Linked DNA regions of Homo sapiens: all the other regions are linked to region 2. Evidence: fine-mapped expression QTL. A gene starts in region 2. Each other region holds a variant in brackets. All regions are shown on one strand. Distances are from middle to middle.

The links. PIP is the estimated chance that this variant, and not a neighbour inherited with it, causes the effect. A credible set is the group of variants that fine-mapping cannot tell apart.
Region 1: its variant is the best candidate, but not a certain one, in a credible set for the expression of UBE2Q2 in spinal cord (GTEx, PIP 0.79).
Region 3: its variant is the best candidate, but not a certain one, in a credible set for the expression of UBE2Q2 in whole blood (TOPMed, PIP 0.89).
Region 4: its variant is the best candidate, but not a certain one, in a credible set for the expression of UBE2Q2 in monocytes after interferon gamma (Fairfax 2014, PIP 0.74).

What each region holds. Positions count from the first base shown.
Region 1 is chr15:75,649,191-75,654,339 of GRCh38, forward strand. It overlaps SNX33 (sorting nexin 33), which reads left to right. Exons shown (of 2, transcript NM_153271.2): 1 at 1-1,383. Among named protein-coding and RNA genes, the nearest start is that of SNX33, 3.9 kb to the left of the region's middle. RefSeq lists enhancers at 1,895-2,831, 3,796-4,348, 4,349-4,900. The variant TG/T (reference allele first, on the strand shown) is at 2,815.
Region 2 is chr15:75,840,561-75,845,709 of GRCh38, forward strand. It overlaps UBE2Q2 (ubiquitin conjugating enzyme E2 Q2), which reads left to right and starts at 2,887. Exons shown (of 13, transcript NM_173469.4): 1 at 2,887-3,286. The coding sequence starts at 3,107. RefSeq lists silencers at 2,468-2,647, 2,688-2,827, 2,968-3,047, 3,298-3,697 and an enhancer at 2,969-3,866.
Region 3 is chr15:75,897,148-75,902,296 of GRCh38, forward strand. UBE2Q2 (ubiquitin conjugating enzyme E2 Q2) reads left to right here. Exons shown (of 13, transcript NM_173469.4): 13 at 2,280-3,931. The coding sequence ends at 2,311. Among named protein-coding and RNA genes, the nearest start is that of FBXO22, 4.2 kb to the right of the region's middle. The variant A/G (reference allele first, on the strand shown) is at 2,941.
Region 4 is chr15:75,981,033-75,986,181 of GRCh38, forward strand. All of the region lies in intron 3 of NRG4 (neuregulin 4), which reads right to left. Among named protein-coding and RNA genes, the nearest start is that of NRG4, 29 kb to the right of the region's middle. The variant G/T (reference allele first, on the strand shown) is at 2,268.

The sequences.
Region 1 (5,149 bases), 190 kb before region 2:
TTAGCGAGACCTCACTGGATGGCTGGCTGCAGGGCCAGAACAGCCGTGGGGAGACAGGGCTCTTTCCTGCCTCTTATGTGGAGATCGTCCGTTCTGGCATCAGCACCAACCATGCTGACTACTCCAGCAGCCCTGCAGGCTCTCCCGGAGCCCAGGTGAGCTTGTACAACAGCCCCAGTGTGGCCAGCCCAGCTAGGAGTGGTGGGGGCAGTGGCTTCCTCTCAAACCAGGGTAGCTTTGAGGAGGATGATGATGATGACTGGGATGACTGGGACGACGGATGCACAGTGGTGGAGGAGCCACGGGCTGGTGGGCTGGGCACCAACGGGCACCCTCCCCTCAACCTCTCCTACCCTGGTGCCTACCCCAGCCAGCACATGGCCTTCCGGCCCAAGCCACCACTGGAGCGGCAGGACAGCCTGGCATCTGCCAAGCGAGGCAGTGTGGTGGGCCGTAACCTCAACCGTTTCTCATGCTTTGTGCGTTCTGGAGTGGAGGCCTTCATCCTGGGTGATGTGCCCATGATGGCCAAGATCGCTGAGACATACTCCATTGAAATGGGCCCTCGTGGCCCCCAGTGGAAGGCCAATCCCCACCCATTTGCCTGCTCTGTGGAGGACCCCACAAAACAGACCAAATTCAAGGGCATCAAAAGCTACATCTCCTACAAGCTCACACCCACCCATGCTGCCTCACCCGTCTACCGGCGCTACAAACACTTTGACTGGCTCTATAACCGCCTGCTACACAAGTTCACTGTCATCTCGGTGCCCCACCTGCCTGAGAAGCAGGCCACTGGCCGCTTCGAGGAGGACTTCATCGAAAAGCGGAAGCGGAGACTCATCCTCTGGATGGACCACATGACCAGCCACCCTGTGCTCTCCCAGTACGAAGGCTTCCAGCATTTCCTCAGCTGCCTGGATGACAAGCAGTGGAAGATGGGCAAACGCCGGGCGGAGAAGGATGAGATGGTGGGTGCCAGCTTCCTGCTCACCTTCCAGATCCCCACCGAGCACCAGGACTTGCAGGACGTGGAAGATCGCGTGGACACTTTCAAGGCCTTCAGTAAGAAGATGGACGACAGCGTCCTGCAGCTCAGCACTGTGGCATCAGAGCTGGTGCGTAAACATGTGGGGGGCTTCCGCAAGGAATTCCAGAAGCTGGGCAGTGCCTTCCAGGCCATCAGTCATTCCTTCCAGATGGACCCCCCCTTTTGCTCTGAGGCCCTCAACAGTGCCATTTCTCACACGGGCCGTACCTATGAAGCCATCGGGGAGATGTTTGCTGAGCAGCCCAAGAATGACCTCTTCCAGATGCTGGACACACTGTCTCTCTACCAGGGCCTGCTCTCCAACTTCCCTGACATCATCCATCTACAAAAAGGTAAGGCCCAGTGCAGGCAGGAAACTCGTCCTGAGTCTGGCTCTCTGCTGGGCCCTGGGGAGATGGGGATGGCCTGGATAGAATGGAGCAACTTGTCTTTATTTCTCTGTCTCAATCATTCATTTAACAAATGTGTTGGGCTGGGCACGGTGGCTTACGCTTGTAATCTCAGCACTTTGGGAGGTTGAAGTAGGAGGATCACTTGGGCCCAGGAGGTTGAGACTACAGTGAGCCCGATTGTGCCACTGCACTCCAGCCTGGGTGACAGAGTGAGACCCTGTCTCTAAAACAAACAAACAAACAAACAAACAAACAAATGTGTTGAATATCAACTCTGTGTCTGTGGCAAATGTGCTTCTAGGTGCAGGGATATTGTTGTGCACAGGCCCGGTCTCTGTCCTCATGGAGCTTGATATTTACCTTCTTGTCAGTTCATTCATTTTCTCTGTTTGCATCTCGTTTACCCATCATGCATGGTGTCATGCTGGGTTCTGAGAACACATAGATGACCAGGCCCCAGGCCTTGCCCTTGAGGAGCCGGTAGGCCCTTGGGAGACACAGACCCAACCCAGATAACAAGAGCTCAGAGTGGGGGCCTGTCTTGTGCTCCTTGCAAGTTAACCTCCCCACCTTTGCAGCTTTGGAAGCTACTCTCACCACTGTGTATTCTCTTTATGAGCGTCTTGTCTGTGTGCAGGAAGATCCCTGTCCCCATTTTGCAGATGAAGGAGCTAGTGTCCACAGAAGAGTGGTTGCACAGCCTGTGGCCCGGCTGGGACTGTCCCTTCCTCCTGCCACCTCCCCAAGGACACGTCCATGTTGGCCACTTCCCAAGCCTAGCCATGTTTTCAGTTCTCATGACCCCCTCTGTGGGGGAGGGACAGGATGGGCCTCTGCCTGTTACTGCTGGGGCTGTCCATGAACTGCCGGGGAAATGACTCATCCTGGGTCACACAGGGGCACTCTGGCTGGGCCAGGGGTGCAGAATCAGGGGTCCAGGGCACTGTCCACATGGCCTATCCAACTCCTGCTTCCCAAGCCTGGCTTCTCTTCTTGCCTGAGGAGAGAGCCAGTGGCTGCCCCAGCAGGTGCCTGAGTCCTGGGCACAGCTGGGAGGGCAGATGTCAGGAGAGAGGTGTGATCCTCCCTGGGGCTGCTTGGTAACTCGTCTGCAGGGCGTGGAGCTGGCTCCCTGGCCCTTGGGCCCTGAGGTTAGACCTGGCTTGGTGGGGAGTTTGACTCTGGGTGGGGCCAGGGGGCAGACCTCTGCACTGAGCCTGGGGAACAGGAAACATGTCACCCACCACCACCAGGGAGGGCCTGGGGTAAGCTGGCCTTGCTTTCCTTTACCAAGAGGTTGACTTCTATAACTTCTCCAGCTCCCAGCCTCCTTTCTCCCCTTGCTATATCCTCTTCCTCTTCCTTTCTTTC[TG/T]TTTTTTTTTTTTTTTCTCTCATCTCTACCTTTCTTCCTCCTCCTCTGAACTCCAGGAAACACAAACCTGAGTGCTAGTCTTGGCTCTGCCCCTAGATTGCTGTGCGTCCCCGGGGAGTGCCTTTGCCCCTCTGGGCCTTAGTTTCCTGATCTGTAAAACAAGGGAATGGGGTCCCAGTGAGCCATCAGGCCTTCAAGGGAGTGGGTGGGAAGGGACTCCTGGGGAGGGTATGGCTCAGAAACAGAATGACACCTTAGCTCTGGCTCTGAGCACTGGGGCAGGAGTAGGGCAGGGGAGGTGGCCAGGCCTGCTGGGGGCCCACTGGGGCAGGTGTCTCCCTGAGCACAAGTGGGAAGGCTGGTTCAACCAGCTCCTTAGATGGCTTGTTCCTGTGCAGGCAGCAGGAGGGGGAATGCAATGATTAAACAGATGCTCCCATGCAGTGGCTGGGGACCCCCCACCCAGAGCAGAGCTGAGGACATTAGGGCAGCCCCACACCTAGGAAGGACACCAGGGCCTCCCAGGCTGGGGGGAAGCCAGACCAGCCTTTCTGACCCTGGGCAGAGAGACAGAGCTGAGATAGGCCATTTCTGAGTTTCTACTTGAGGTGTTTCTAAGAGTCAGAGGCCACTGTCCTCTGTGCTGGTGCATTTGACCTGAAACAGAGGCCAGCCCACTGCCTTCCCTCCCCGGGAGGACCCCTCCCAATGGGCCAAGCCCTCTCTGGCTTACTCTAAGTTCTGGGCTCTGCACTGCTCCTCCCAGGCCTGTGGTGTGGGGCAAGTTAGGGAGGGGGTACTGAGACAGAACTGGACAGGCTTTGGGGACCACAGCCCAATGGGAGTGATAAGGAGGGGGTCCTAATGCTGGCCTTAGGGGTGGAGCCCTTCTCAAAGAAAAGAGAAGAACAGTTGGGTCCTGGGCCCCCAGGATTCTGTCCAGCCTGTCTGGACATCTGAATGGGTGGTGAGTGTGTGGGAGGAAGGACAGTGGAGGCCTAGGTGGGAGTCAGGAGACCAGGATTTGGACAAACTTTGCATCTGACATGACTTTGGGAGAGATTTCTCCCCTCAGTCTCTAGGTGAGTAAAATGGGACCCGAGGGTCTTCATTTCCTTAGGAGGGCTCCATGTCATGTGAAACTTACATTAAACAAATTTGTATGCTTTTCAGAAAAATAATAAAATGAAATAAAATGGGACATAAACCCTGGCTGGAGCTGAGAGGAGCCTGGTCCTCCCACGGGCCTAGTCCCTGTAGCCCAATCCAGGGGTCTCCTAAGAGAAGGGTAACCATATAATTAACCAGGGCAGTTTGGGGCATAAAAGGGGGCCCTAGCAATAGTGATCCCGGGACAACAGGGGAAAGTAACTGTCCAGGGCAAGCTGGGACGTATGGACCCCCAACTTGACAGCCAGCAAGAGCGGGGCTGGTCCTAAGGCTCACGACAGGTCAGGAGGGCGATGTGGTCACTTCCGTTTTACAGACGAGGTGCAGCGATGCAGATGAGCCTCAGAGCAGGAGCTGGAGTCCAGTGTGTCTGGCTCCGCAGCCCAGGCTGTTTCCACTGTGCCCTCCCAGATGGGGGAGGGGATCCCCAGGGATGGAGAGCTGAGCCAGAAGGCGAAAGAGGAGGGAGGAAGGCTTGGGTGCTCCTTCACTGGTCCTGTGGGCTAGAGAGAGGCCCAGGACCACAGAGCTTCCATGGAGGGGCCATAGGGACAGCGTGGCCAAGGCAAAGTGGCGACTGTAGGGACAAGTTCTTGCCTGGGGGATGGGTGGGTTCAGCCTCTGGGTTCTGAGCCATCATCTAGCCTTCCCTCTACCGCTCATCCTGTAATCTCAGCACTTTGGGAGGCCGAAGTGGGCGGATCACAGGAGTTCGACACCAGCCTGGCTAACATAGTGAAACCCTGTCTCTACTAAAAATACAAAAAAATAGCCAGGCATGGTGGCAGGTGCCTGTAATCCCAGCTACTTGGAAGGCTGAGGCAGAAGAATTGCTTGAACCCAGCAGGCGGAGGTTGCAGTGAGCCGAGATCAAGCCACTGCACTCCAGCTTGGGCAGCAGAACAAGACTCCATCTCAAATTAAAAAAAAAAAAAAAAAAGAAAAGAAAAGCAGTTTTCAAGCCATAACATGTAGCATCTGGAGCTTCTATTGTATCTCAGGTGCGCTCCTTTGAACTGTGTACATATTAGTTCAGTTAAGCCTCAACTATACTATAGGGCAGGTACTATTATTATCCCATTTTACAGATGTGGAAACTCCTTAAAGCACTATACCGTGTGAGAGGTTGTCAACAGCATCACATCTAGTGCAACCTGTCCCACT
Region 2 (5,149 bases):
AATGGGCTCTTGAATATCCTCTGAATATGGCCCTACTTTCATGCAAATAATTCATGGAATTAGTTTCTTCCTCCCCTGAAATGTAGTTCAGTAGTTTGAACCTCATATCACATATGATCTGATGTTGTCTTTACTTGTCTGTGTAAGACTATGGTGACTCCCCAGCAACCATTCCATCCCAGCAGGTTGGAAATCCAGAGTAATCCCATCTACTTCTCTGTGATTGGTTAGGGGTGGGCATGTGACACACTTCTGGCCAAGGACACACTAAGGGAAGTCTGCTGGGAAGATTCTTGGAAAGCTTCCCATGTGTTAGAAGGAAACATAGAAGAAAATGTCCTTTCTGCCTCTGGATATTTTCATGTCTGGATGTGAACTGCAAGAACAGCTACAGCCACCTTGCTCTCAACCCAACAAAAGAGATGGAAAGAATTTGGACTTTTGATGACATGAAAGCTCAGGTCAACCAATCCTGGAGACTGTTCTGTCTTTGGACTTCCTATTATGTGAAGTAATTTATTTCCTTATTGTCCAAGGCAGATTAAATCACAGTTTTCTATTATTTGCAGCCAAAAGCATCAGGAAACAATATTTTGTTTTTGATGCTAAATGTTAAGCTTCTTAAAATCAGGGACTGTATCTATGTATCTTTCTAGCCCTCTTACAGCTTGGCATGCAGCAGATGGATGCTCAAAAAGCGACTGTGAAATTAATATTTGTATATATTTCTGGGATACAACTAGTAAAAACACTTGCAATTTAAAAAGCTCTATTTTCTCACAGCAATCTAGAGGTAACAAAATAAAGCTTAGACAGATTAAATAGCTTGTTTAGGGAATTTTGTTTCTCGAAGTCATACCAACTTCTCAAGAGTTTGTTGCTCTTTGTCTCAAATCCTTATCTGGGAATGCCATGCCTGTTAGGGTCCCAAGAAACTGGGGACTGAAGGAAAAATAAAGTGGCAAGCCACTTCTGTGCTTAACCCAGCAATAATGCTAATACAGTAGCCTAGTTGTTTCTGGCTCAGAACCCAGGCCTGGAACCCCTTCTTCTCCCAGTCCCAGTGTATAGTGTGGTAGCTCTAGTGCTGGGGTCATGAATCCCCATAAGTACAAAATTTTAGATGCAGAAGTATTTTCCTGGGAAGATGGATCATAGCTTTTATTAGATTCTCAAAGGGGTCTGTGAGAATCTTAGTCTTCTTAAAGGCTAGATAGAAGTTGGGGTAGAAGATGGTAGAAGTTGGGGCATGGCCAGGAAAAGTTAGGGCTGGTTTGAATGATAAGAGACTGAATTTGTAGGCTGTGGGGAGCTACTAACTTACTGAGGTAAATTGGAAAAGTTTATTTGTCTTCTTAAAGGCTAAGGACTATAACATGATACAAAATCTCAGAAGTAGATGGAAATAAAAACTTTCAGTAGACTTAATGTGTCCCTGTGTTGTTCTGTATTTTGTCATCTAAGGGGACCAGTAGCCCAGGGATCTCTTGTAGATTAGGAAGAAAGAGACAGGTGTCAGGGTTGGGTAACTCTAGGTAAGACTGGAAAAGGAAAATGCGGAGCCCCTTTCTGAAAAATTACGAATTTCAAAATGGCGACACCAGAATATTAAACCAAGCTCGAAGCCCTTCTAAGCTGGGAGCACTGTGCAACTACATAGGTTGGACGCATATGCAGCTGGTCCTGCCTCTTGCACTTACGATTGCACACACTATTGTCTGCCAAATTGGGATGTATTCCTTTGGACTGCTATCCAGACCTTTATTCATTTTTTGAGCACCTACAATGTGCCAGGAATTGTGCTAGTGGTGGGGATTCCAGATAAGAGCGAGCATTCAATTCAATCATATCGGGTTTCTACTATATAACAGGTCTTGTTCTAGGTCCTGGGGATACAGCTCTGAACACATTAACACGGGGCAGAGACAAGGAATAAATGGGTTAAAGATCAGATAGTGACAGGTGCCCAACAAAAACTTAGCACAGGACGATGTGACACAGGGTGACTATTTGAAATGGGTTGTGGTGGGGGGTGCCGGAGATGATATTTGAGCTATGAGTTTAGTGAAAATAGTGGGCAGCCCTAGCTCCATGGGGGTGTGGGTGGGGAGGGTTATCTTAAGCTTGGGAAACAAGGCAAAATAAGGAAAGGGGGGAGAGAGAGACTATATACGGCAGAGTGAACACAGGTGGTAGCTAAGGGAAGGGATGAAATCATGGGACACCTCCAGGCAACAGCCTCCAGGGGCTAAACCATCGTCTTGGGTAAATGGATGGTTTGAGAGCAAAGGCGGGAGCAGCGAGTCCGGTGAGAAGGTCCTCACAGGAACCCAGGCTGGTGAGAAGGTCCTCACAGGAACCCAGGCTAGCGAAGCGGTGGCTCGGACTAGGGTGAAAGTAGCGGAGGTAACGCTGGGTGAGCCGCACCCGCGTCTCCCACGAGGTCCCCCCAGTGAGGTTAGCGGGTGCCGCGCCGAGCGCCAAGCTGAGGAGCCGCCCCCAGGGGCTGGCGCTAGTCTGCAGCGGCGCCGACGTGGCCGGCGCGATCCGCCACGCACGTGTCCGGCTCCAGGCCGGGGGCGGGGGCGCGCGGGGGTCTCCGGCTCCTCCCCGACTTCTGGGGCCCGGGCGCCAGCTGGCCCCGAGCCTCCAGTCCGCGGGTGCGAAGAACGGAGCAGATGGGTCGGGAACAAGGGAGCTGGGTCAAGGCGAGGAGGGGGCGGCCGGGCGCGCGCGCTCTGGCCTCGTGCACGCGCTGAAACCGGAGCGCGCAGGGCGCGCCAGGGTGAGGGGGACGGGGGCGGGGTGGGGGCAGCCCTTTCCCAGGCGGTAGCGGGGGCGGCGTCGCTGTTGCCCTTTTAAGCCGCGGGGCCGCCGCCTCCTGCCGCTGGAGTCGGTTACAAAGGAAGCGCCACCCAGGCCGCCACACGCCGAGGCTTCCGCGCCCCTCGCCATTTTCCAGCAGCGCTCGACGAGGCGGAGCCGCGAGAGCGCGGCCCAGGCCGGCCCCGCGGGGCGGTCGCGGCCGTGACGGCGGCTCCGGGCCCGGCTCCCCTTCCGCGCCCGGCTCCCCTTCCGCGCCCCTCCCGCCGGAGATGAGGGGAAGATGTCCGTGTCAGGGCTCAAGGCCGAGCTGAAGTTCCTGGCGTCCATCTTCGACAAGAACCACGAGCGATTCCGCATCGTCAGTTGGAAGCTGGACGAGCTGCACTGCCAGTTCCTGGTGCCGCAGCAGGGCAGCCCGCACTCGCTGCCGCCGCCACTCACGCTCCACTGCAACATCACGGTGAGGCGCCCGGCCGCGGCCCCGCGGGGCAGGGCGAGGACGGAGAGGGGGCGCTTCGAGTCCCGGGACAAAGGGGAGCCTGCCCCGGAGAGGCTCCGGCTCCCCGGGCGGGGCAGGCCCGCCCCTTTCCCCCGCGACTTGCCCATCCCAGGCCGGGCTGGGACTGCGCGAGGCTTGGGTGGGAGGAGGCGGAGGGCGCGTCTTTCCGGCTTCTCGCCAGGGGCTGGCTTGGGGGCTTCTGGCCCATCTCGGTCCCCGTCTCCTAGCCCCGAGGGGGGAGTCCGCGGCGGCCCAAGCCCTTGTGGGGTCCATGGCCGCCCTCAGCCGGCCTGCTCCCGGGACCGGGGCGGGGCGGGGCGGGGCGGCGCAGCTCCGGCTGTTGTTTGAGCCCAGGCCGGCAAGGGGAACGGCCCTTAAGTTTTAACGCCTCATTTTTCAGTCGGATTTTCCTTCTTCCCGCTTGTTCAGCCAATTGTTTTTAAGTTTGCGTTTAAGGAGAAACTGACAATGAGAATGGACTCGTTGACGGAGGAAAAGTTGGAATGCAGACTCTGGTGCTGTTTGAGCGACCCCTCTCCCCCGGGCCTGGCTGCGCGCTGCTGTGTTCTGGAAAGGAGCATAGTACCGTCGTTGCGGCAGGTGGTGTTGAGTGTGTATTCGTGTGGCCCCTCCCTTGTGTGTAAGCCTCGAAAATGGATAGGTGAAAGGAGATACGCGCCAGGGCTGCTCCCCGGAAAGATCACGTATGTCACAAAGCCGAAAAGACACTTTTAAAAACTCACTCATTAAGCGGAAATCTCATTAGAAACCCAAGGCTTGGTAAAGGAATTGAAGTATTAAGTTTCTCCATAAAAGTGTATCGTGAAGCTATTCGTCGTGAAATTGATGTAGGATATTGGTCCAAACTGCAGAATATTCTCTTGGTTATAATAGGCGTCAAGGTGGTGGCTTCGGGCTCCTTTTCAAACATGGCTAAAACCAAGTCTTGTTTTTAACTCCCTTTGGTTGAGTCAGTGGGTACTCAAGTGCCTGCAGGGTGGCTGGCGTTTGCAAAAACCTTGATGTTATAATTGACCTTAAAATGGTTACCAGACTATCTGGGCAGAAGGTGTGTTAATTTCAAAAAAAAAAAGACAAGTGCTGTACTGAGGAGATAATTCATTTATTGAATGAATACGTCTGAGTGTTCTGGGCACTAGTGTTGCAGAATTGAGTGAAGTCGTCCTCGCTCTCAGAACTCAGTCTTCTTGGGGGAAGAGTTCAATAAGGTGACAGCTCCTGTGGTATCATCAGGAAAGCCAAAGCAACTAATTTTGACTTGGGGGAGGTGCGCTTCAGGGAAGGCTTTGATGAGAGGCTGAGACAGTTAGAGATGAGCTTCCACAGGTGACTACAATTTTGGAAGGCTGGCGGAAGGGCATTTTAGACTGAGGAAACTCCACCCAAAGAAGACACGGAGATTTGAGAAAGTGTGGTTTCCTTAGAAGTAGAAAATTTATGCTAAGACTTGAGAAGCCCACGATACAGGCTGGAGAAGGGGAGGATTTTCCAAGAGTGGAAAACAGAAAGTGTAGTAGTTGTCATGAAGCAGGTGTTTTAAGGAGACGGGCCTGAATGGCTTCGAGGGTGATTACTCTGGTAGAAGTTGGGGCATGGCCACGAAAAGGTAGGGCTGGTTTGAATGATAGGAGACTGAATTTGTAGGCTGTGGGGAGCTACTAAGTTTACTCAGGTAAGTTGGGAGAATGTATCTTTCATCCAGGATTAGAAATGGTTCTCTACAGTGGGTGGCATTAGGAAATGTGGTTATCCCAGTGGGGGTGGGGTGGTCTTATTGCTGTGCCGGCATTTAGTGCTAGGAGT
Region 3 (5,149 bases), 57 kb after region 2:
CTTTAGTTTCTTAAAATGCTGTTACCATGGTGAAAGAAACTTGTGCTGCATACAAAATCTTTATTTATTTATTTATTTATTTTATTTTATTTTATTTTATTTGTTTTTTGAGACGGAGTCTCGCTCTGTCACCCCAGCTGGAGTGCAGTGGCACTATCTCAGCTCACTGCCAGCTCCGCCTCCCAGGTTCATGCCATTCTCCTGCCTCAGCCTCCCGAGTAGCTGGGACTACAGGTGCCTTTTTTGTATTTTTAGTAGAGACCGGGTTTCCCTGTGTTAGCCAGGATGGTCTCGATCTCCTGACTTTGTGATCCGCCCGCCTCGGCCTCCCAAAGTACTGGGATTACAGGTGTAAGCCACTGCACCACAAAACCTTAACATTGTACTTCAGTCAAAATTTTTGTATCCTATACACTTGGCCTAGGTATCTCAGAGTCAGAATCAAGATTTCTTTTTTTTTTTTTTTAGTAGATTAATGAATGACTCACTTTACTTACTTGAAATATTAGGAACTGAGTTAAAGGCAACTCCTTACAGATGGAGTTCTTGTTGTTATAACTGGAGTGCAGTGGTTGTTTACAGGCGTGATCATAGTGGACTGCAGCCTCAAGTTCCTGGGCTGATGTGATCCTCCTGCCTCAGTCTCCTCAGTAGCTTGGACTGTAGGCACAAGCCACCATGCCTGTAAAGTATTCTTTACTTTGCTAGAAATGTGTCAGTTTGTGACTTAAGATTTGTGTTTTGTGCTCATTTATTTTAATGACAAAGCAAACTTGTCACTCTTTCAGTGATTGCTTACTTATGGAAATAGTATTCAAAACAAAATTTTCAAGCAGAAGAGAGAAACGATAAAATTTGAGGACAAGGCCAGGTTTTCATAATAATAATTTCTAGCACACAAAATTAGATCCAAAGAAACCTGTGTACTACTTTGATACTTTATAGATCTTGGCATATTCATACTATTCTAAAGTTTCATACTAAACAGTACTTAGTCTAATTTGCCTTTTTATAGAGAGCTTAGGTTTTTGCGGAACCTGGGACACAGATTTCTTCTTATCTTTGTTTTTATTTCTTAACCATTACAACTGGCATTCAAAAAATATTTATAGAAAATGCTGTATTTGAGAGTGTGTGGGTATGTGTAAGCTTAGCTGTGATGAAAGAGTAATAGAGTCAGAAGCAGGGGAGATGACTTCTAGGGTTTTGTTTTTTTTTAAATCTTAAAATTTTTTTGTTATTTTAAAAAAATAGATATTATACTTACTGTGTACAAAGTTTTGAAGTATACATAACTGTGGAATGACTAAATCTAGCTAATTAACCTAGGCATCACCTTACATAGTTATCATTTTTATGGTGAGACACTTTACATCCACTCTTAACATTTTTCAAGAATATAGTATATTGTTAACTATAGTCACCATGTTGTACAATAGCTCAAGATGGATTCTAGTTTGGCCTGCTACTAACTCTGATTTTAGGCATAGTCATTTAGTCATTGCACCTGCTGCGATGGCTTCCTTGTCATTGTGAAATGACGTTATGGCTCCGATAACAGTCCAAGTTCCTTGTATTCTAAATCGCCAGGATTTTGTTTGGGGAAATAAGTACTTTCCATGAGGCTTACTTTCAAGTATAGAACTGAAGTGGAATAAAACTTATTCTTTTAGTCTAATATTCCACAGTCATCTTTAGCTAGAGATGCCATTAATACAGAGCTCTTGTGTTGAAAACTCAGGTACAATTTATTCATAGAAAATAACTTTCTGTTGTGAAATAGCAAAATGCAGTGTTCCCAATCCAAGTGTAAGTTTAATTTTTAGAGTAGACTGGGTGCAGTGGCTCACACCTGTAATCCCAGCACTTTGGGGAGGTGGAGGTGGGTGGATCACCTGAGGTCATTAGTTGGAGACCAGCCTGACCAACATGGTGAAACCCTGTCTCTACTAAATACCAAAAAAAAAAAAAAAAAAAAATTAGTGGGGCATAGTGGCGCATGCCTATAATCCCAGCTACTTGGGAGGCTGAGGCAGGAGAATTGCTTGATCTGGGAGGTGGAGGTTGCAGTGAGCTGAGTTTGCGCCATTGCACTCCAGCCTAGGTAACAGAGTGAAACTCTGTCTCAAAAAATATATATATAATATATATATATATTTTTTACGGTAGATTTTAAACACCAAAATTATGAAAAGAGACTGTAGCTAACCTTATTACATGCCAGTTCTTCTAATTTATTTAAGAATTATTTTAACTTTTTTTTTTTCATTCTATTTCAGGCTGGTACACCCCTCCAAAGGAAGATGGCTAAATGTGTTGACTGTTGTATGTTTGGACTAATGTTGCTTTAAAGAAAATCTTTCTAACATGCAGACAAAAGCTTTGAGTGCCCCTATTACAGCAGTACCGAAGATGTTAGTTAATAGATATTTTAGTGGATAATCTGTCATCTGACATCCAGTATAAGTTACAGCCTTTGCATTTTGCTCATTTTAGATATCTTGGACTGAGCAGTGGGGCCTTTACTGTATTTTTCCTGATAAATACACATACTGGCCACTCCTTATCTCTTTTTCTTGAAAAGTGAACTTTTTAAAGCAGCCAAGTCAACATCAGGCTACTGAAGTTGAGGCTTTAGGGTAACTTTCCTATATTGAGCCCATGGGTTACAAGGATTTGCAATATATTGTTCCATTTACAGCCAATACAGGTTTAATCGATGTTCAATATTGGTTTAGGAAATTTAAGGCCTTCTAAATCATAATAGCTCTTTCATGTCTAAAACCATTTTATGATATTGCCAAAATGTGATAGGAAACCTACTCATTAAATTGTTAAACTTTTTAATGACTATGTGAAGATATGAATTGTTTCCTGAAGATAATACTCTTAATTGAGTTGTATTGTACTTCTTAGGCAAAGCAGTGTAAAACTGTATCA[A/G]TTAAGGCTTGTGAGTAGTGATTTCCACTGGGGCATCAGAGTCTTGGCTGGGCTGAATCTGCTGCTTGTTGGTTCAGTGTTTCTTATGAACAAGAGCCACAGTACAGAGCTTCAAGTTATTTAAAATACTAAGTCATCTTACGTTTCCATTTTATTAACGGGATGTTGCAATCGTTTGTAAACTAATAAACTTATAAAGTGATTGGCACAAAGACTCCTTGAGCAAAAGCTGTGCAGTTAAGTACAAAAAGATACTTAATTTGGAGACTCTTACAGTAATTTTTGCCATGTCAAAACAATGGCTTTTACATTGAAAGATTAATAGAAACTCTACATATGTTAATTTTTTTATAGAACCTGACTCAAATCAAGGTACTCTCCATTTTATTGCCTTACCTGAATCAGTCCTTTTTGGTTGGTAATAGATTTTTTTATACACCCACGTTTGATTTAAAAGTAAATTCTAGTTCTTAAGCACTTTTAACAAATCCAGAAGCACATTTTTCTGCACAAACAAGTTACAAAGTTCAAAAGTGTTTCTTGTGCATTAGCTTTGAGATTCAGTTTTTAACTTTGTAAACCACATCTGAGAGACTTGTCATTTCTACATTGTGTGTGTTTAATTTCTTTTGATTCCATTTTGGTTAAGAGAGCAGTAAATAGATTTTCTGGTATTCTTGTTCACTTGATTACATTTGTATAAAGTTCTGATTGCCAGTTGCTCAGATAACAAGTGACAAGGCAGAATTCTTTAAATCAGTAAAGTTCCTTAAGCCTAAGGCTAAATCTTGAATACATTGTTGAATTCTTTAATATCCTGATGGCAAGCAGACTGATAGCTGCACATTTGGCATGCTTTGTTTAATGGATTTTATTTTTAATTGCAGATTTATTTGGCAATGTACAGTAAATTTTGTAAACTTGCATCAAGTTTATGAATAAAGAACCATTTAAAAATTTTGTTTGTGCTGATCATGGCAAGCAAAAAAAAGATTACTTTCTCATTTTTCCCTCATAAGAAAACTCTGCTTGATGTGTTTGTAGGCTTTATTGAGTTTCTGGAATAAGATATTTAAGGAGGGAAGTGGTGAGGGGAGGCTTGGAAGACAGGCAGATTTAACAAGAGAAAGTGAAAGTGTGAAAGAACCTGGAAATAGTCTGTACAATAGTCACCTTTTCCTCCGCCTTTTTCCTCTTCCATTCTCATTATAAATTCAAGTGCTACTTTTTCCTTATGGCTATCCTTAGTTCCCCCAGTGAAAATAATCTGCTCCTTCCTTAGCATACCCATGGCCTCCTTGCACACAATTGACAGATTATTTCACATACAAGAAGTCCAGAGGTAGGACAACTCCAGGTACTGTACATCTGGGCTTTGCTCTGCTTCCTTGAGATTTTTCTATGTTGGTTTCATCTTTTGGTTGCATGTTATGTGCAGCCCCCTTACTTGATCCAGAGGTAGATAAATGGCCCTGTCTTCTAGTGTCTCCTTAGGAGGTGAGGAAATCTCTAAAAGCACCATCCCATCAAGCACACTGCCTCTTGCCTTTCCTTGGCTACATCAGGGACCTGTGCCCACCCCTAAACCAATGGTGGTGAAAAGAATGAAACCATCGTGATTAGTTTGCACAAATGGTTCTCAAAGCCTTATTTGGGGAACACTGGAGACCCCTGAGACCATTTCAAGAGGTTTTAAAAGACTATTTTCATAATATTAAAACATTTGCCATTTTCACTCATTCTTCCATGTGTACAATGGAATTTTCCAGAGGCTACATGATGTGATTTTGCAACAGATTGAATTCAGAAGCAAATATGAGAATCTATTTGTCTTCTATTAAGACAAATTAAATATTTGCAAAAATGTAGTGATGCCGTCACTGGTAAACTGTCCTCTTTCCCTACTTTATATCAGCCACAAAGAAAGAACGCCCACTTTGAAAGGCAGTCAGGTTTCATTCAGTAGCCAGAGAATGGAGAAGGGGAGCTCATACTCTAAAGGCACCTTCTCCCAGAGGGATGGGAGGCTGGGGAGTTTAAAGAGTTAGCTGAGGGGCGGGGGAGGTATGAACGGCATGCACAGACTGGAGTTCCAGACAAGCAGGCATAGTCCCTGAACATGCTGCTTCATACATCCATGTTCGTAAGATGCCAGTGAGCTTTCTTTAGGGAGAGGATTTTAGCATTATGTTAATTATCTAAAGGTAAC
Region 4 (5,149 bases), 140 kb after region 2:
CATTTGGTGAATTGCAGATGGCCACAAATTCTTTGTCACTCCTCTCACTGAGTGCTGGGGTCTATTTCCCCTCCCTTTGAAACTCAGTGGCCCTATGACTTGCTTTGACAAGGAGAATATGGTAGATGATGCTTCATAATTCTTAAAGTTAGGCATTAACAGATCAACAGCTTCCACTGTCGTCTATTGGAATACTCCCTTTTGGTCTCCATGTATGAAGTCTGACTATCCTCTGGGGAGAGAGACCTGAATCTACTTTAAATGTTTCAGATCCTGCCAAATACCCAGCTGAACACAGCTCCTGAGTAACCCTTGCCAATACCATGTAGAGGAGAACAACCACCCAGCATCACCTGCTTGAATTCCCAAGAATTCTGAGTAAATTATAATATGGTTGCTATTTTAAGCCACTGAGTTTTGGGGTAGTATGTTACACAGAAACAGATAATCCTAGAAGTAAGGTGTTTGTGTAACTAAAAACTTAAAAATTTGTGGCATTGGATTTTGGACCAAGCAGTAGGTGGAGGCCTAAGGGGCAGTAAGGAAACTGCTAGTAGCAGCTGCAAGTACAATGAGGAAATTGCTATTGAAGGCTGAATGCAGCCCTGTGAGTGACCCAAGATGACACCATGTAGAGTGGCACTGCCTAGGTGAGACCAGCCCAAATACCTGTCAAATGGTCGTTTTTGAAGCTACTGATTTTTAGGGTTGTTTTTATGCAAAATAGATAACCAAACTACAAAATATAAGTGAAGATATGCCAGAGGAAATTTAACCACAGAAATGGATAATATGTTTTAAAATCAGAAAAGAGGCTATTTTGATAAATTCTTTACCAATAAATTTGAAAACCTGGATGAATTGGAAAATTTTGCTTAAAAATATAACTTACAAAAAAAAAATCACCCCCAAAGAAACAGAAAATCTAATACAGACTGATTTACAGAGAAGAAAATTCAAATAGATCATTCTCCATAAAACAAATTTAGGAACTATTGCTAAGAAAACCTAGATCCAGACAGCTTCATAGAGAATTCTTCCAGACTTTAAACATTAGATAATTCTAATGCTAAACTATTCTAAAACTTAGAAAAGGAGAAAAATATTCAAACTCCTTCAATGAAATAAGGATATTGTCGATCCCAAAACCTAACAAAGATTGTACCAATAAGAAAACCGTAGGTCATTCTCACGAATGTCAACACAAAAATCCTCAATAAAATACAATAAGAATCAGCAGACCATAAAAGAATAGTAAGTGGGCCATACTCCAGAAATACAAGAATGATTCAAAATCAGGACTAATAATACAATTCATCATGTAGATATAGTTAAAGAGAAAAAAACATGATCATGTCCTTAGACTGTAAAAAAGCATTCGATAAAATTCAATGGCCATTCTTGATTTAAAACAATAAGTGGAATATGAGAGGTTCCACTTCTGGGTATGACTAGCTAAGATGCTATAGAATGACCACCACTTCTAGCTCCCTGCAGAAAACTATAAAGACTTGGACAAAATATGAAAAGCAAATACCTGAAGGTCCAGGAGAATGAAGAGATAAAGACAGATTCTGGAGGGGAGGTCACGCTAGTTTGGAGGAAGTACAAGTAAATTCCTGCTTCTGCAGCTTTTAGCCTGGGGCTAAGCCACCTAGTGAGTACAGCAGCTATGGGGGCCTTGCATGGAAGAACTCTTTCTGATCTGAGGAACTAGAAAAAAGAAGCTATGAAGCCATGAATGCTGAAAGAGTAGGAGAATTCTGGGTGAGCATGAGCCAAAGAGGGGATCCCCAAGCCCAAGCTGTCTCCCCACATCTCTAACGGACACCTGAACTAGGTAGGCTCAGAACAAATTTAAAACAGACCATCTAAAAACAAAACATCTGAACAGACTGGACCTTCTACATAAGAAAACATGTTTGCAGTAGAAGCCCAGCCAAGAAAATTGCTTACTAAACAAAGGAAACCATGCTTATCAGAAAAATAATAGCATTTAGAATATCCATAATCTAAAACTCCTAATGTCCCAGAAACAATCCAAAATCACCAAGTATACAAAGAACCAAAAAATCAAATGTTCTCAAGAGAAAGAAAATAAATTGAGTCCAAACCCAAGACGAACCAGATATTGGAACAAACAGACAAGAATCAAGCCGCTAATATAACTATCCTCAATGAAGCAAAACATATTTACAATGCATAAAAAGTCTTAGCAGAGAAATGGTAAGTCTCAGCAGAGATACAGAAACAAACAAAGACATTGA[G/T]ATCTGAAAACTAATAAAAACCCTCAATAAAATAGAAATATAGTTACTTCCTTAGCATGATAAAATATATCCATCCCAGCCAAAAATTAGCATCAGATTTCCTGGAAAAAGTAAAGACATTCCCATCAAAGTTAAAAAACAATAAAAAGTAAAAAACACTCACTGCTACCCCTATTATTTAATATTGTACTGAAGGTCCTAACCACAATTAGACAAGATACAGAAATAAAAGGCACAGCCATTAGAAGGAGATAAGTAAAACTATTGCTATTTATAGATGATATGATTATACATCTTGAAAACCCAAAGGAATAAAATAAAAAACTCCTACAAATAGTAACATAACTCAATAAGATAGCAGGGGAAATTAACATAAAGAAATCACTAGCTTTCTTATATACAGACAATAATTAGAAGATAGGCAGGAAAAGCCCCAGTCACAATACAAACAAAATGATGAAATAACTAAGAATAAATTTAAGAAATATGTAAAACCTATATGAGGGAAATTCTAAAACATATTCTAGGCTAAATAGATTCAACTTTATAAACATATAAATTCTAAATTAATTTATGAATATAAATGTTATCCCAATATCTATAGGAAGAAAGCTTTAAAACACATTCTAGATGAAATAAATTCAATCTTATAAACATCTAAATCCTAAGTTAATTTATGAATATAAATGTTACCCCAATATCTAAAAACAAAAATGATAAAAGTTCCTGAAAAAATACATGGCAGGGGAGAGACGAACAGGCAGAGCACAGAGGATTTTTAGGATAGCGAAAATACCTGGTATGATAGTATAATGGTGGATACATGTCATTACATTTGTACAGACCCATAGAATGTACAACACCATCGGTGAACCCTGAACTATGGACTTTGGTGATTATGATGTGTTGATGCAGGTTCCTCAATGGTAATGAATGTACCATTCTGGTTGGTGGTGTTGATAACGGGGGAGGCCTTGCATGTGTCACGGCAGGGGGTATATACAGGGAAGTCTCTGTACCGTCCTCTCAATTTTGCTGTGAACCTAAAACTGCCCTTTAAAAGGGGTCTTTTTACTTAGAACCAACCCAAATGTCCATCAGTGATAGACTGGATGAAGAAAATGTGGCACATATACACCATGGAACACTACACAACCATAAAAAAGAATGAGTTCATGTCCTTTGCAGGGACATGGATGAAGCTGGAAACCATCATTCTCAGCAAACTAACACAGGAACAGAAAACCAAACACCGCATGTTCTCACTCATAAGTGGGAGTTTAACAATAAGAACACACGGACACAGGCATGGGAACATCACACACCAGGGCCTACTGGGAGGCAGGGGGCTAGGGGAGGAATAGCATTAGGAGAAATACCTAATGTAGATGACGAGTTGATGGGTGCAGCAAACCACCATGGCACGTGTATACCTATGTAACAAACCTGCATGTTCTGTACATGTATCCCAGAACTTAAAGTATAATAAAAAAAATTGTTTAAAAAATTGGCAAATAATTTTTTTTAAAGCAGTTTTTGTTTTGTTTTGTTTTGTTTTGTCTTGAGACAGAGTTTTGCTCTGTCACCCAGGCTAGAATGCAGTGATGCAATCTCAGTTCACTGCAACTTCCACCTCCCAGGTTCAAGTGATTCTTGTGCTTCAGCCTCCCATGTAGCTGTGACTACAGGCACGCCTCACCATGCCAGGCTAATTTTTGTATTTTTAGTAGAGACTAGGTTTCACCATGTTAGCCAGGCTGGTCTCGAACTCCTGACCTCAAGTGGTCTGCTTGCCTCAGCATCCCAAAATGCTGGGATTACCGGCATGAGCCACTGCACCAGGCCAAAAAAGTCTTTAATTAAACAAAAGGGAAAAAAATAAGGGTAAGTTCCATTATAACTCCCAGGAAGACTCAATGGACTCAATACATAGTTTTACCCACAGTAATGATTTATTACAGCAAAAAGATACAAAGCAAAAACTACAAAGGGAAAAGATACATGGGATGAAGTCTGAAGGAAATGAGGCACAAGCTTCGAAGAGTTCCCTCCTAGTGGAGTCACACAGAACAAGCCTAATTCCTCTAGTAATGAATTGTGACAATTTAAGTGAAGTGTTATCTACTAGGGAAGCTCATCAGAGACTTAGTGTCCAAGATTTTTCATGGAAACTGTTCATATATGTATCTTCTGCCTCGCATATACCAAAATTCCAGACTCCCAAAAGAAAAGCAGGTATTCAGCATAAACCACAATGCTTATACAGTTCAGGCATACGGAGACATCCTTATCATTTAGGAAAAGTTTCATTTAAGTATAGAGAACTGTATGCCAACTAAGTTTCTAAACACCAGCAACGGCCAACTTCGCAAGGAGGCCTTTCTAAGGATAGCAGTCTAAGACCTGCTCTGTCAACTCTATTCTCCACATCTTGAATATAAAAAATCAAATTATAAGTCAACATCCAAAACCCATAAAAGACTGATAAAATTAAGTATGTAAAAATAAAAAATAAAACTTAATTATGGCCAAAATTTATCAAGAAAAAAATCACAAGACAAGTGACAAACTAGAAGAGAATGTTTGCAACTCATATCTCAGTCAAAAAGATAATATAGCTTTTAATAGTATCTTTATTATATAAACAATTTCTACGATGGCTACTATAAGAATACAACTTAATAGAACAACTAGGGAAAAACTGTTGACACAAAAGGAAACACATATGGCTCAACCTCACCTATCAAAAGATTGAATTAAAAGTAACAGTGAGATACCATTTCTCATCTATCAGATTGGTAAGAACCCAAAATTAGACCACATATGCTGCTATCAGCTTGGTAAAAACCCCAAATCAGATAACGTTTTCATCTATCTGATTG